2 separate regions of the Homo sapiens genome follow, and region 2 is linked to region 1. A link means that fine-mapping ties the variant in region 1 to the expression of a gene that starts in the linked region. Tissue or cell type: whole blood. Region 1 holds a variant in brackets; the other region holds the start of a gene. All regions are shown on one strand. Distances are between the middles of the regions.

Evidence for each region. PIP is the estimated chance that this variant, and not a neighbour inherited with it, causes the effect.
Region 2: SARS1 starts here. The variant in region 1 is fine-mapped to the expression of SARS1 in whole blood (INTERVAL, PIP 0.95).

What each region holds. Positions count from the first base shown.
Region 1 is chr1:109,169,417-109,172,172 of GRCh38, reverse strand. It overlaps ELAPOR1 (endosome-lysosome associated apoptosis and autophagy regulator 1), which reads right to left. Exons shown (of 22, transcript NM_020775.5): 4 at 160-307. Among named protein-coding and RNA genes, the nearest start is that of SARS1, 43 kb to the left of the region's middle. The variant C/T (reference allele first, on the strand shown) is at 1,524.
Region 2 is chr1:109,212,241-109,214,856 of GRCh38, reverse strand. It overlaps SARS1 (seryl-tRNA synthetase 1), which reads right to left and starts at 939. Exons shown (of 11, transcript NM_006513.4): 1 at 729-939. The coding sequence starts at 864. RefSeq lists an enhancer at 516-875 and a silencer at 926-1,145.

The DNA of each region.
Region 1 (2,756 bases):
GCCTCCTGGGCCTCAGCTCATTTTGCCCACAGCTCTCTCCAGAGAGAAAACAACAGTGATTCCCCCAAGCAGGGCTACACTCATGATGGATTCCTCAAACGGATCTGAACCCCAGAGAGGCTTTTTAGCTCCCACCCTCCACCTTGGCCAGGGGCTTACGAAAAACTCAAAGATGATGCTGGAGTCTGGATAGTAGTATTCGAAGTTAACGGTGCCAGATTGCTTCAGGTTGACGGCGTACATCAGTGTGGCTGTGCATTCGTCCGTGTTGGAGGCGATGTAGTCGCCCCGGGGAACCCACTTGGACCTGTGAAGGAACAGGAACCAGGTTCACAGGCAGGAGCACAGCCCACCAGGCTTTGTGCCATGTGCAGGTCTCATGTTCTGCTGGGTCTTTGGGAATTTTCAGGCTTGTGATTCACAAACTGAAACTTGGACCTGAAAATGCTCAGTGAAGAAAGACAAAAGAAGCTCTCAGGTAGGTCAAGGACCTGGAGTACAGCTAAGAAGAGGAAGGCAGACAGGTGAGGAAAACAAGCAGGCATGCCTCCACATTGTGCAGAGCTACCTGGGATACGGGTGGCAGGTGAAGTTGGGGAGGGCTAACATCTTTTTTTTTTTGAGGCAGAGTCTCGCTCTGTCTCCCAGGCTGGAGTGCAGTGGCGTGGCCTCGGCTCACCACAACCTCTGCCTCCCGGGTTCAAGCAATTCTCCTGTCTCAGCCTCCCGAGTAGCTAGGATTACAGGCATGCACCACCACACCCAGCTAATTTCTGTATTTTTTTTTAGTAGAGACAGGTTTTCACCATGTTGGCCAGCCTGGTCTCGAACTCCTGACCTCAAGTGATCCACCCACCTCGGCCTCAAAAAGGGCTGGGATTACAGGCATGAGCCACTGCGCCTAGTCAGGGAGGGGTAACATTTATTGGTTGCTTACTACCTTCCAGGAATTGAACTACGTGCTTTATATTCATGATTTATTTTCATCAATAAGAGGAAATGTTTTTTCTGTTTAAGAGATGATGAAACTGGGGCTTGGAGAGTGCCAAGCCCAGTATTACGAAGCAGCGAGTGGCAGGGCTGAAATCAGGTCTGCCAAACTCTAAAGCTGTCAAATAACTCAGTAGACACAGATATTCTTCAGAACTCAGACATCCACCCAGTCTAGTCTACCTGTTTTTCCAGAAATGTCTACTATAAGATGCTGCATGTAAATGGTTTTTATGGAAACAAGGAGGGCCGGAGAACCCTGGAGACAGCCAACCTGGTCATGTCTGTTTTATCTCCTAAATACGTGTTCACTCTATCCACCCTGTCCACGGGCTCTCCCTACACTCACCACCACACCATCTATGAACCAGCCCCCAAACTTGTCTCCCTGAAGCCAGTCCCACATCCTCCAAGCCCTCTGCATGCTGCAGCCCAGCGGACAGATCCTCCAGAATAGACGTCTGACCATGGCACTCCCTTGCTTCAAATTAAAACCCCTGGGACTGACTCCCTGTGGCCCTTAGGATAGGGTA[C/T]AAATTCCTGATGCACTCTATATACTTCAACTCTATGACATTTCTTTCAATTCCTCTGCCAAGCTTTCTCTTACCTCTGGGCCTCCTGACATCCTCTTCCCTCTTCCTGGAATGAACTTCCTCCTCTCTCTCTCAGTTTAACTCCTACTGTGTCTTAAATGTCACTTAATCTAAAAAGTCTTCCTTGATTCTATCTGCTTCTGCTATGGGTGCCCTTAGCTCTCTTTGCTCTCCTTCTCATAGCCATAATCCCATGATATTTTATATATTTTTAGTATATTATGAAATATGTAAGACCTATACAATGGTGTAATGAACACTCCCCGACCCATCACCCTGCTTAAGAAGTTCAACACAGCAGAAGCCTCTGCGTACCCTCCACTAACCTCATCCCTTTTCCTGGAACACACTGCCTTCCCCACTGCCAAGTGACTAATTTCCTGAATCTGGTGTTTAACATGCGCATGCGGTTCTCTACATGTATGTATCTCTAAACAACATACTGTATGGTAGTGCTTCGCATGTTTTCAAGCTTCACATAAATGGTATTATATTTATGGGCTCTGAAACTCACTTTGGGAAGGAAGGGACTTCAATATACTAACTGTGAGATTCATCCATATTCACACATCCAGCTTTTTTGGCTTCGTCTTTACTACTGCATAACATTCCTTTGTACGGCTCTGCCATATATATTTGTGCATTACTCGTTGATGGACATTTGGATTGTTTGCAGTTTCATGTGCACATTCTGCTGTGTTCCTGTCTCCTTAGGCACATGTCTGAGTAGAAAGCCTGGGAGGAGAACTGTATGTGAGCCTCCCATTTACCAGCTACTGCTACACTGTTCCTGTTGCTCCACATCCTCTCCAAATTTGAAACTGTCAGACCTCAAAATTGTTGCCAATATTATGTGAGGGAAGAGACCAAATTTACCTTACTCACTAAAGTATTCCCAGCACCAGCCTGGACCTGGCACATAGTGGGGAGTCACAGGGTTAAAGAGTTGAATGTGGAAACAGGTAATCGAAAACACTCACGCTATTGCACTGTTTTGCCTGAGACCAGCCCAGGTTTCCAGTTGCTTAATAATGGCCAGTTGGGTGGGCGTGGTGGCTCATGCCTGTAATCGCAGCACTTTGGGAGGCTGAGGCGGGTGGATCACCTGAGGTGAGGAGTTCGAGACCATCGAGACCAGCCTGACCAACATGGTGAAACCCCATCTCTACTAAA
Region 2 (2,616 bases), 43 kb before region 1:
GCAGTTCCAGGTTCTAGCCCAACTCTGCCAATGTCTTTAAAGGAAAACGTCCACAAATCACAATTAAACAGCTTCAGTCATTACAATCTTTTGCTCGCCTCCTCACTCCCCTCGCGTTTGATCTACCACGGAAAAGACTTTTCTAATTCTTAAAGGTATGCCCATAGGTCGGGGGATGGCCTTCCGAAAAGCTTCAGGGTCATTTATTTTGGCCAAGAGCGGCCTCCAACGCCCCGAAATGCTTCCGATACCGAAGGAATGAATCTACTGTGTTGCAGAAGTGACGCAGTCTCAGGAGAAGCCTTTGATCCTATCAAAACAAAGGAAAACCACTCTGGCCTTGCTGAAGATGAGAAAAAGACTGGGGGGGACCAAAGATTCGTGTTAGGAAAGCCGCGTAGACCCCACAACCTCCCGCCCCGGCATGTTCTGGCAACCCCTGGGGCAGGAAGGCTTGACAGCTCCCGATGCGCGTGCGTACGCACACTGGCAGCGAACGGCACTGAGCACGCGTGGAAGGGACCTCGCTCCGCCCGGGTGGAGGAGAAAGTGGGATGACCCCGGCGACCAGGCTGTGTTTTCGGGGATGGGGAGAACCTCGGAGCCACCGCACCCTGGGAGGGGGTCTGACGAAGGGTGGAAGCTGTGGCCTCAGGAGCGGTGGCTGGATTTGAGAGAGAAAATTGGGTTTAGCATCAAGGAGGTAACCCGCCCGTCCCGGTACTTACATCGTCGCCACTCGCTGTCTGCCTTCACCAGCTGGTCCACTAGTCCCGGGTCCTTGAAGCGCTTCTCCTGCGTCTCTCGGATGAGGGCTGGGTCCCCTCCTTTATCCACCCGAAACAAATCCAGATCCAGCACCATCTTCTTTCCTCCCGGGCCAACGCTCAGGGAAGCAAGGATCGCGCCGCAGCACTCAGCCTGTGACCGCCGCACTGCGCCGGCGCGCTGACCCGCCCTTCCTGCGCAGGCGCAGCTGGAGCCCGCAGGCGACCCTCCCCGCGACCGGAAGCGGCTGGTTGGAGGCGGGGCCGCGGAGGGAGGGGAGGGGAGAGTGGGTGGGCGTGGGACTATACCTCTGGTTCCTGCTCCCCAGCTCTGCTACAGTCTGCAGGAACTGTGATCGCCACATAAAAGTGTGAATGCCTCAGTTTCCTACTCCTGTCTCAGGCTAGGCAGAGGCCTGTCCCCTCATCCCTAGCTTAGAGGCCGGGGCCTTCACCAGGTGCCCGTTTTCCTCTCACTAGGTTGGGTTCTTCCACTGGGCTCTTTCCCTGAACCTCGGCCGTCTTCTCCATCTTGATACAAGAGGATGGCATATTTAGTCCCAGGGCTACCTCAGCTTAAGATTCCTGCTCTCGTGCCTTAGAAATGGTATACCTTTATTAATCTGATTATTGGATAAACCAAATTGTCACTTTACCAACTCTTAAGAGCACAGCTTTGGGAAAGTGCGGTTGTCTTTTAGAGAGAGACGAGAGAAAACTTTTCCAAAGGGACATTAAGCAGATTTGAACGCCGTATAAGGTGTTGAGGTCATGTCTTGGGTCAATTTGAAAGCGTCTTGAAGAACGGTTTGTATCATACTTTGATTTTATAATGTTCAGACCTTTAAATGAAATATTCTAGTTGCCGAGTGAAGCCAAAGTTATCAAAGAATCTCCCTGATAACAAGAGATTATTTGAAGGATTTGGGAACAGGTGATCTCCTCCCCCACCCCCACCCCCAATCCTTCCACTCTGCAGAAACTTTAAAGCCTCACTTCCAATGCCTTCTCGAAGCTAGATGTGCTAAGACCTTCTTGATCTTATACCGCCGTCATGGACTCCTGAGATGAGGGTGTGACATAGCTAACTATCATATTATTTATTTATAATATGAAATATATTTGGGCTTTGTCCCTGGTTCCTGACACAGCCCCTAAAACCCTTGAATTTCCTGGGTTATACGTAATGGGTCTCTTTGATAACACCTGAGTTTATAATAAGGAGGTGATTTAGGATGGGGGCCCTAGATAACCTTAGGATGGGGCCAGTCACCAGAGAGACCAAGTGATTGGAGGATTGGAACTTTCATCCCCACCCTTCAACCTCCAGGAAAGGGGGAGGGGAGGAGCTGGACATCAAACTCTATAAACGCTCGAACAACAAGAGTTGATGAGCTTCAGGGTTGTTGAACATGTGGAGATGCCAGGAGGGTGTCTTGCCCAGAAAGGTTATGGAAGCTCTGCACCCCTGACACCTTGCCCTATCCATCTCTTCATCTGGCTGTTCATTTGTACCCTTTGTACTATCCTTTATAATAAACTGGTAAATGTTTCCTTGAGGTCTGTGAGCCTTCTCAGCAAATTAATCAGACCAAAGGAGGGGGTAGTGGGAGCCCCAGTTTATAGCTGCTAAGAAGTATAGGTGAAATCTACTACTTGCAATTGGCATCTGAAGAGGAGCAGTCTAGTGGGATCAAGCCCTTACCCCATGGAATCTGACACTACCTCCAGGTAGCTAGTGTCAGAATCAGAATCGAATTGAATTATAGAATGCTTAGCCAATGTCCACTGGAGAATCGCTTGGTGTCTGAGGAACTTACCCCCCAGGGCCCCTCACCACTGCATCTGG